2 separate regions of the Homo sapiens genome follow, and region 2 is linked to region 1. Evidence: fine-mapped expression QTL. Tissue or cell type: unexposed skin. Region 1 holds a variant in brackets; the other region holds the start of a gene. All regions are shown on one strand. Distances are between the middles of the regions.

Region 1 (5,364 bases):
GAACTGATCCCTGGGCTGCTGACTCCTCAGCCTGAGTTCTCCCTGCTGTCCATCCCGCACTTATTTTCCAACACCTCAGGCTGAGAAGCTGCCTGTTCTGCCTGCCTGGCTTCTCTCATGATGCCAGCCAGGAGGGAGTGAGGGCAGGGGGTGCCCACCTCTAGCAGCTCAGGCAGGTTCTAATGTGGGCATTGGCAGCGCCTTCTGGGATCAGAGCTGCTGTGCCACTCACCTTGCCACCCTTTGTTGCACCTTCTAGCTCCTTCCTGTGGGGCTCCAGGTTGGGAATCAGGCCTCCCATTTATGGCAGGTTTGGGCCGACTGTGCCCGGGCCAGGAAGCAGGACGGCTCCTAGGTAGAGATTTGGATGGGGTTCTCACCATCATGGGCCTCGTTTTAAAGTGGACCTGCCCACCGCCCCGATCTCCACTGCCTGTAGACTTTGCAGTGTCCGGACCTGGCTTTGACCTGGGACCAGCCACTGTGTAAGGGAGCTGGCTCAGCTGCCTACAGAACACTCTCATGGCACCGGAACCTCCAGGGCCCCCTAATCTCCAGGGACTGCAGTCCCGAGCCCTCTGTCATTCTACTTGCCTGACCACTGCCCTCCCATGGCTCTGCAGACCAGCGCTTTCCTGGGCTGCTCTGTTGGCTGTCCCACTGCATTCCTCAGGGGCGTCTGAAGAAGCCTCGTGTGGCTGGAATGGGGATAAAATCCAGACGGAAAGGCCTCTGATGAGGACTTGGGCCTTTGGTGTGCCTGGCTCACTTCAGGCCTGGAGGGAGTAGCCCTCTCTGGGTTGAACTGGGCCCAGAGGCCCTCTGATTTATATCAAGGTGGGAGCTGCCTGGGCAGGCAGAAATAATAAAGGTGTGGGCCGGGGCTTATGGAAGATGGGGTGGAGGGAAAGCTGGGCAGAAAAGCTCATCCTTCCATGCCTTTTGGCCATGCTAGCCTAAAGACCAGGGGAAGGCTTAGAGCTTAGTGATGCACCCAAGACGTGCAGGGCTGTGGATCTTAACCTCTGAAGCCACTGCCCACTCTGTGGGCAGCTGCACATCACAAAGATCTAAACTGAAATGGCTATGGAGGAAAGAGGAGTGAGGTGGGGAGGAGGGTAGTGACAGAGAGATGACAGGAGGAAATATCCTGACTAGAGAGCTTCCATCCATTCAACCACCCACCTACCCATCTGCCCATCCACTTACCCATTTGCCCACCCACCTACCCATCTGCCCACCCACCTACCTATCTGCCCACTCACCTACCTACCCATCTGCCCACCCACCCACCCACCTACCCATCTGCCCACCCACCCACCCACCTACCTACCCATCTGCTCACCCACCCACCTACCTACCCATCTTCCCACCCAGCCACCCACCTACCCATCTGCCCGCCCACCCACCGACCCACCCACCTACCTACCCATCTGCCCACCCACTCACCCACCTATCCATCCATCCACCCACCCATTAACTGATCCACCTCACCCAAACACCCACCTACTCATCAACCCATCCATCCTACCCAAACACCTATCCATTCATCCACCCACCAGGCCACCCCGCTATCCAATGCATTTTTCATCAATCACCTGCTATATTCCAGCATTTTCATCCAGGTCCCACCTCAGTGTAGCCCACAGGGGATCAACCCCCCCACCCCCACCCCCACCACCAGTTTCTGATCTCTTTTTGCACGCACAGCCTGATGGTGGCCCTGGGCCCTTGTAAACCCTCCTTCCCATTTTCTGATACTCTGCTTGTTTCTCCTCGTGGCCCACTGAGATAGTAAGCTCCTTCACTCAGAGTTGCGGTTGCTTCTAATTCCCTCGCACCTTTCTTAGAGCTCTCCTTGGAGGAGTTGCTCAGAGCATCTTTTGTGGGTCGATGGAAAGGTTACTGGGAAACTTCAGTTGTTTGAGACTGGGATCACCTGGCCTCTGTGTAGGGTGGTCGAGGTGAGAAGGGAGCTCACGTTAGGTGAACACCTGCTGAGTGCTCAGGGGGCGGGGGAGAATGACAGCTTGGTGCTGGGGAAAGAACCCATGTTTGGAGCTGGCAGGGGTGGGATTGGTTCCCGGAGTTGATGCCAGCTGTGTGGCTTTCAACAAGTCACTTAAGCTTTCCGAGTCTCAGTGTTTTTATTTGTCAAGAAACAAAATATAAACAAACCTGAACAATTAAATGCACATGTAAGTACTCCTTGTGGTACTTGGCATGTGGCTAGTGGGTGATGGTCTCTCCCCATGCCCCCGCCATGTCCATAGATTTGAAGACTGATCAAGGCTACTTTGTTGAGTTAAAATGGGCATAGATGAAGCTTGGCTCTGGGTCAGGGCCAAGCTAGTGAACAACAATGGGCAGCCTCTGATGTTTCTGGCCTCTCGCCTCCACCCTTGTCCTGTCTCATCCTCTTGGCCACCGGCCTGCTAGTCCCCTGGGCAGGATGGGGGAAGAGACAAGCTGCTGAGTTGCTGGAGGGCAGGATGGCTTGGATTCAGCCTGCTGCCTTGCTGTGGACCCTGTGGCTCAGGCCCTCTGTGCAGCCCAGTGGCCGGAGGCTGGTTATCCATAAGCAGGAAATGGTGGAGGTGAGCTGAGCATGAGATGATGTCAGGAGATGTGGGGCAGGAGGCTGGGCTCTGGGGAGGGCCTGCAGTGCTGGGGGGCACAGGCATTTAATCAACTGAATTCCCACTGTCCTCTCTCCAACTCCATTTATTACCTATTAAATAATTATCTCATTTGGAAAGTGTTTCTTAATGTAGGGCAGACTCTATCCCCAGGGCCATGGGTTTTGCAACGAGTTGTCTCCTGTGTGCGTGTTCCAGGCTTGGGCAGGACCGGAGCGTTCTTGCCCTGGCTGTGCCTCTGCCTGAACCAGGCTTTCCGGAGGCACGGTAAAGCGGGT[GCCC/G]CCTCCCCTCGACCTGGCTAATAGCCTCATTACAAGGGTTTTCTTAAGCAGTATTCTGTCTTCTAAAGGGGACTGCCTAGGGCTGGGCTTCTGAAGTTACTTGCTATTTTCTGGGACTCTGCCTTAGGATCTCCAAAACGTCTGAAAATGTCAGGGATGGGAGAGGCCTTTGTCGTTTTTACAGGTGAGGCCACTCAGGCCCTGAGATCACACATTGAGTTGATGGCAAAAGCAGAAGCCTAGGCCTCCCGCCTGCAAATGCAGAGCTTGCTCTGCTTCATCTCCTTTTGTCTTGGAATGTCATTGGAGCTTAAGGGTGGCCCCTTCCCCTCTTGAAGGAAGGGCTGTTTCCTGAAACAAGAGCAGGGAAGCTGTGTTGAGTGAATGCAGCTCTGCCTCACAACAGCCCTACAGATACTCCCTCCTTTTTTTTTTTTTTTTTTTTTTTGACAGAGTCTCGCTCTGTCACCAGGCTGGAGTACAGTGGTGCAATCTTGGCTCACTGCAACCTCTGCCTCCCGGGTTCAAGTGATTCTCCTGCTTCAGCCTCCGGAGTAGCTGGGACTACAGGAGCACACCACCGTACCCAGCTAATTTTTGTATTTTTAGTAGAGATGGGGTTTCACCATGTTGGCCACAATGGTCTCCATCTCTCGGCCTCAGGTGATCCGCCCGCCTTGGCCTCCTAAAGTTTGGGGATTACAGGCGTGAGCCATCGGGCCCGGCCTTTTTTTTTTTTTTCTTTTGAGATGGAGTTTTGCTCTTGTCACCCAGGCTGGAGCGCAATGGCACAATCTCAGCTCACTGCAACCTCCGCCTCCTGGCCTCTTGGCCAGGCTGGTCTGGAGCTCCTGACCTCAGACGATCTGCCCACCTCAGCCTCCCAAAGTGCTGCGATGACAGGCGTGAGCCACCATGCCCGGCCAATACTCCCTTTTTTGTTATTAATAAGTTATACAGACTTTCTAGAACATGTGCAAACAGTACTGAAGCACGTGTAGAAACACAAGCCTTGCCCCTCTGTCTGCTCCCCAGAGGTCATGGTGGTGGTCAGGCAGGTGCACGCCCTCCTCCTGGCTGTGGTGTGAGGGTGGATTGAAGGGGACCAAGGAGAGTGCATCGGAGTGCATCATTAAGGTCCTCTAGGCAAGAAGCAGAGGTAATGGACCAGGGTGGGCTTCAGATTTGTCTTCCAGTTTCAGGTGTTTAGAGTAAGGTCAAGCGGTCAGTACCACAGCGTGCCCTGAGGATGGCTTCGGTCAGTTCCAGTACCCCCAAGGAGCTGCATGAAGGTCTCACCTCATCCTATCACCTACCCTGGGCTTCTTCATCTGCAGGGTGGGGCTCACTGTCCTCAGGTCCTGAGATTCTCTCAGGCCCCCAACACAGGCCCTGGGGCTGCCCATGATCAGGCCAGCTGTCAGTGTCCATTGCAGAAGCTCAGAGGGCCCCCTGGGACTTGGCTCCCTTTCGAGATTCTGGGAGCAGACTACAGCAGCGGTCACTGACCCTGGAGTGGTCACGGGCCACTTTGAGGAGTTGGATAGCTTGAAGGATGAATGGCTGAGCTGCAGGGAGAGATCTGGGGAGGGCATTTCAGGCAACGGTTCTGGTGGGTCAAAAGATGCAGGAGGGACCTGGGTGTAGCCTGTTTGCCTGCAAGAAGGCCCTGTGTGGAAGAGGCAGGGTTCCTTATGGATCCTGGGCCTGGCCCATTGTTAACAGGGAGCCGTCTGGGACTCTAGAGCAGTGAGGGGGCAGCCCAGGTACAAGACACATGGTGATGAGGAAGGAGCTAGGGTCAGACCCTGGCTCGGCCACTTGGTTTCCTGAGGCCCTGCGTGGATTACCCCATTTCTAATATGGCCAGGGTTAATGTACCTGGCCCAAGGATTGTTGTGAAAATTAGAGATCCGTTATGGCCAGCACACAGGAGTGTGCAATGGTGATGCAAATGATATAAATGATGATGAATGAGGCAGAAGCTGGACCACTCTGCCTTTAAAATCCTGAAGCCCTAGATGCCCACCCTAATCATGAGAGCTGTCATTTATTATGCAATGACTGGGTGATGATTAGAGCCCATTTACCCTCTGCAAGAGAGTCTCTATCACCCATTTTACAGGTGAGGAACCCGAGTTTCCTGATGTCTCTGAGGCCATGTAGCCCATGAGTGACGGAGTGCGAATTCCATTCTGTGCTGTCTGTTCAGTGTGGTTCATATTCTACCAGACTCCAGCCCTGCCTGTGAAACCCCATATGTAGTGGGTGCTGACGTGAATATGAAATAGCAGGTGTGCCCCATGAGAGAAGCTCAGCAGGCCCCTGCAGGCTTCCTGGAGGCACCTCCTGTAGTATGGCCCTTGGATGGGCCTGCTGCCCCTGTGATTCAGCTCCAGGTGGAGCCTGGGAGGGGTCCCAGTCCTGGGCCTGTGGCTGGAGTC
Region 2 (5,364 bases), 120 kb before region 1:
GGAACACTCCACTTCCCCTTCTCCTAGTCCACCCTCCCTCATTCCTCATTCCTTCTTATCAGTGCAACCTCATCTCCCCAGGAAAGCGTTCTCCTTCTCTGTACCACTCCCCTCCCCAAGCTCACCTCCCAGCTTGCTCAGGTCTCCAATCACCGGCTCCCACAGCACGGTGGATTTTCCTTTACCCAGTTTGTGATTATATGTTTGTTTGTGGTTATTAATGAAACATAAGCTCCCTAAGGGGAAAGATCTTGTAGGTGTTGCTCACTGTGGTGTCGAGCCACTTAGCACAGTGCCTGGTACTGATTGAATGAACCAGACTGGCCAAAGGTCATACACTTAGTACCAGATCTGGGACTAGGACCTGGTGTCCCAGCGCTCAGTCGAAGGCTTCCCTGGCCACACCAGTTTGCCTCCACTCCAAACCTTCTGCTGCTTTTTTCAGCGCCCAAACTTCTGACCATCTAGAGATTCAGGCACGGTGTCTACAGAGTTCTCCTCCAACCAAAAAACATTCTGTCTTCATCTCGACAGCCATCTTCTTGCCAAAATAAGCCGGGAAAGGTTATGTGAGTGCCTGGAGTCCAGCAGGAGTTGAGCTGGTCTGAGAAGAAAAACAGAGAAGAAGGAAATATCCTAAAACATTGATTTGTTTAAACTTCTTCACAAACTTTACAACACAAGGAAATCAACAGAGACAAGCTCATAATGAAGTAATCAGCCAACGCGGCTAATATTCCAGCAATGAGAAATGATTCCCTACATGTCATGGGGCAGATATGAATAGGGTCATTAAAATATGGCCAAGGAGGGGAGGGAGAGTTTACTTTTTCTGTCTCCTTAGAGTCTGTGTTCTGAAAGCTCAGCAGGAATTTAAACAAATAGCACGGAGGAATGGTGAATCTGATCATCTTTAAAGAAAAAGCCCCTTTCAAACTTCTCTTTAAATCATTGGCTTATGCAAGTTTCGCTTTTTAAAAATGCTGCCGACCTTTTCCCCCCAAACAAAATTAGCATCAAATTGTTCTAATATTTTTCTGCATATTTTTTTCTCTAGGTCAAGAAGAAATTGTTGCTCCATCATATAAGTGAATGTCAGGAGGAGGAAGGAGGATCTTAAGGAATGAAGTTCTAATGCATCCTCTTTGATTAAAAAGTAAAAGAATAAAGTTAGCAGAGGATAAAAGGTATATGGAGAGAGCCACCCACAAAAAGGGTTGCACCGGTGAAATGGGCCTGTGTAGGTCACATCCCCTCAGGGAGGGTAGCATTGGGTCCCTTGCATTTCAAATAAAATGCAATTTTAGGAACAGGGGCTGAAGGGAGAGACACTTCCACCCACCTCAACAGGGCAATTTTTTAAAAATTTAATTTAATTAATTTATTTTTTTGAGACAGAGTCTCGCTCCATCACCCAGGCTGGAGTGCAGTGGCGCCATCATGGCTCACTGCAACCTCCATCTCCCAAGGGGTTTGAGAGATTCTCCAGCCTCAGTCTCCCAAGTAGCCGGGATTACAGGCGCGCGCTACTATCCCTGGCTAATTTTTTGTATTTTTAGTAGAGACGGGGTTTCACCATGTTGGCCAGGCTGGTCTTGAACTCCTGACCTCAGGTGATCCCCGTGCCTCGGCCTCCCAAAGTGCTAGGATTACAAGCGTGAGCCACCGCGCCCGGCCCAACAGGGCAAATTTAACTGAACTTACAGTACAACCACCCGAAGCTCTGGGAGGATGGCAGAGTGCTCTGACCTTAGACTAGTTACTTAACTTTTTAAAGCATCAGACTTCCCACCTGTAAAAACACGAGAAGAGAACCTTCCTTACAGAGCTGTGAAAGTCCAATAATACAAAGAAAATATAACATCACCTGGCACTTGGTAGAGTGTTCTACAAACGTTAGGAAGAATAAAACCAGAAATTCCCCCCAAGACCCTCTTCGGGTGAGGCCCAGGGGCCCTGGAGAGGGTGGCAGGCCCGGGGGTGTGGGGAGGACACTTTAGCCAGCTGCCCCCAATTCTCCTCCAAGCCTGGCGGCCCAGTTCCGGGCTGTGGTGTGGCTTGAGGGCCCAGGGCTCCTCACTGAGCTTGCTTAAGCAAGTTCTTTCACACACAGCCCCATATACACTTTGGCTAGAAAATTCAATGAGGAGTTTTTTCTTCCTTCTTTCTCTGTTGTTGTTGGGTTCTGATTACTTCCATCTGGCTTCAGCGGCTCGAGTGGAGTCTCTAAAACACACAACACAACAAAACAAAAACCCACCCTGCAAGCCACATGCACCAAACCTAGAAGGCTGCTTCGTTTCTCGCCAGCGTGTGCTCAGATGGCGACGAGGGCTAGCGGCGGCGGGGGACGCCTCAGGACCCCCGGCACCTGCGCTCGCTGCCCGCGGGAAGAGGGTCCGCGTGGACCCAGCCCCCGCGTCCCTTCTCTGGCGTCCCCGGCTTCCGCGCGGGCGTCCAGAGAAGCGGGCGCCCTGGGAACAGCGACCCAGGCATCTCCCCGAGGAGGGAAGTGGGAGGTGGGGAGGGCGGGGGGATTTCAGAGATTGAAAACAGAGCAGCCCTTGCCCCTCAGCTCCGGAGCTCATCTGACTTGAGTTAGCGACACCCCCAACCCCCCCCCCCACACCTAGTCGTCTAAAAAAAGTGTCGGAGATTGGCGCGTCCTTTGGTTCCTTTCTCGAACTTTCCTTGTAGGTGCGTTTTCTTTCCTTGGTGCTGGGTGGGGAGAGTCCCTGTGCTCCCCCTTTCCCCTCCCCCCGCCCCGGCGGCGTTCGGGTCCCCCTGCGTCCCCCGGCAGGGAGCGGGCGGGCTGGCTGGCGGGTTCTTGGGGCCCGGGTGTGCCCGCACCGTGCGCGCGGGGGCGCTGCGCAGTCCGGCGGCGCTGATGGATTGCAGAAGTGCCGGCGCTTGCCAGCCGAGGCAGCACGGCTCCGCGGACTTTTTTTCAAACTCCCATCAATGAGACTTCGAGGAGGAGCGGGCGGCGGCGGCGGCTGCGACTGCGAACGCGGAGGAAGGCCAGGAGCCGCAGGAGGAGCCGGAGGAAAGAGCTTGGGCCGCGCGGCGCGCCGCAGCCTCGGGGAGCCGCCTGCTCGCCGGCGGTAGGGGCTGCGCGGCGCCCGCCCGCCTCTCGGTCCCCTCTCTTGCCTGGCCCGCCCCGCCCCGGCTGGCTGGAGCCCCGGCACAAGGCAGCCAGCCGAGGGTCGCCGCGCCAGCCAAGGTGGGATGGGGGCCCACAGCCACCGCCCGGCGCCCGAGAGGCCACCTGCGTGCTAGAGGCAAACTTTTGTCTCTCTCGGTAAAGTTGCATTGGCCTTCTTTTGCTTGCTTTTCGTGACGAAGCGCCTCCCACCTCGGCCAAGCGCGGGCCGACTGGGATGCTGCGCCGTCTCGGGGGGTCCCTCGGCCGGGTACCGGCGCCTAGGCCTTGGGATCGGGGCCCTGGGCTTCGGGGGACTAGAGGCTAGTAGGCGCGACCCCGCCTGGGGCTCTGGACGAGCAGGGCGGGGACGTAAGGAGAGTCCTGGGGCTTGGAGCTCGTGGCCAGAGGTCGATGTTGCACCCTCTCCCTACCTGGGGGAGAGCACCACTCTTCTCGGGGTGCACAGCGAGCCGGCCTCCGCGCGCCGGCGGGGGTCTGTTTTTTCAGGGGGTGGAGGGTGGGATCGGAGGCTGGGATGCTCCGAAGCTGCCGTAGGTGGGCATGGGAGCGTGTCTGCGGGCGTACTGAGCGCGGAGGGGCTGCAGCCAGCCACTTGAGAACTTCGAACTCCACTTCTCCGCGCTGCGCGTCCCGGAGCCCTGCCTTTCTTTCTTCCTTCCTCAATCCTTCCTCCCCCTCGCCCGGCCCGGCCGCCCCCTCCCCCTCTGCTGGGCTCTCCTCCTCGGCCCCCCCTCTTTGCCTCTCTTCTCCTCCTCTCCTGCCCTCGGCCCTGAGATCCGCTTGACTTCCCAAAGGGATCCGCACGTAATCCTTTGCCGGGTCCTCCGGTTCCCCCTTCCACCTCACTTTCATCCCTGCCCCCCTACTCATCGTCTCTCCCCACCCCCGACAATCTCTCAACAAGTATATTTGCTGAGGAATTTGAAAAATCCACTACTGCAACTTGATCTGTATGTGATGGATGGGGAGAGGCGCGGAGAGAGTTGGGCGCCAATCCTATTAAGGGTTTAGAGAGGGGAGTCTTTTCCCCGGACGGGGCGGGGGCGGGGAGCTGGGAGGGAGCGTGTGCTTGCGTGTGTGAGTGTGAGCGCGCCCGCCGCGCTGGAGAGCTGGGAGTCCACCCAGCTCGGCGCCTTTTCAGCCCGGCGGTAACTGCTGTCATTTCCTAGGAAACCCGACTTTTACCGCGCGGGGAGCTGGGGATGGAGCCCGTGCGCCTCACCCTGGGTGATCGGTCGCTGAGGCTCTCGGGGACCTCGAGCCCCCCCGAGGGTGCCTCTTTCCACTACCTTCTCTTTTGTGTAATTGTTCTGTGGCTCCTAGAGTTGATCCCAGCTGGAAAAGTAGACCTGTCCCTACTGTCTGGTCCCGCGCCCTGGGAGTCTTGTAGGCGTCCCTCTGTCCCCCAGCCCGGGCATCCCGCTCGGTGCGCGACCTCTGGCACGGGCTTTGCAGCTCGGTGGCCGCAGCGGTGTCCCGGGCCCCCTCTCCGCCGCTCTTGCCGGGCGTGTGAAGGTTTAATCCCGACAGCTTCAGATAAAGGGAGCAGTTGTAAAACGCTCATAGGCTGTTTGCAGACGAGGCTCTGGGGGATGTAGGAGAATTTGAAAGTAAACGTTTCCCTCGCAAGCAGCATAAAATAGTGTTTAAACAAATATTGTATTGGCATGCTCAGGGGGCTCGGTGCCAAAAAGTAAAGTAAATAAACTGTGAAATCCAAAATATACAGCGGGGAAAGCGGAGGAATAGGCGGGTTTGTCACAGGCCTCCCTGATGAGACCAGTTTGTTCCAGCCACCTCACCTGCCAGCTTTCTCTCCGCCCATTTCCTTACCTTGCTGGGAGTTCCCTTGGCTGGGTTTCCCTGTGTCTGGGGACAGGCCCTCCCTGGGGCCTGGGAACGGCTTTGCAGTTGCTTGTTTAGGGGGAAGCTCACGGTGTGGCTACCTGGGCCTGACTCCACAGGGACGGGGGGCACCTTGGCTATGCCTGGCTGCTTTGAGTTTGGAGGCTCTTTATTTAGGCTTTTCCCAGCTTCTGGTCTGTCCTGGGGCAGTCATTCTAGAATGTGGAATCCAGATCCATCAGGGGCCTTCTCTTCTTTTTGACTATGCTTCTTGTGCCTCTTTCTTCATCGTTCTTGCTTTTGTTTTCCTAGACTTGCTGCTTCTCTCTTGAGGGTTACAGGAAATTGTGGAG

Direction of the effects. Positions count from the first base shown, and alleles are read on the strand shown. Sizes are in standard deviations (SD) of each study's normalised expression.
As copies of GCCC replace G in region 1, the expression in unexposed skin of the gene that starts at base 2,884 in region 2 goes down (small effect, 0.32 SD a copy in GTEx).

What was found. PIP is the estimated chance that this variant, and not a neighbour inherited with it, causes the effect.
Region 2: it holds the start of GLI2, and the variant in region 1 is fine-mapped to the expression of GLI2 in unexposed skin (GTEx, PIP above 0.99).

What each region holds. Positions count from the first base shown.
Region 1 is chr2:120,856,108-120,861,471 of GRCh38, forward strand. The region is part of intron 2 of GLI2 (GLI family zinc finger 2); the gene reads left to right. Among named protein-coding and RNA genes, the nearest start is that of GLI2, 120 kb to the left of the region's middle. RefSeq lists an enhancer at 254-903. The variant GCCC/G (reference allele first, on the strand shown) is at 2,918.
Region 2 is chr2:120,732,985-120,738,348 of GRCh38, forward strand. It overlaps GLI2 (GLI family zinc finger 2), which reads left to right and starts at 2,884. Exons shown (of 14, transcript NM_001374353.1): 1 at 2,884-3,301. It overlaps LOC124906073 (a long non-coding RNA gene), which reads left to right. Exons shown (of 3, transcript XR_007087219.1): 3 at 1,058-1,866. LOC124907881 (a long non-coding RNA gene) reads right to left here and starts at 4,677. Exons shown (of 2, transcript XR_007087221.1): 1 at 3,577-4,677; 2 at 1-604. RefSeq lists enhancers at 1,513-2,160, 2,800-2,969, 4,088-4,588, 4,589-5,089.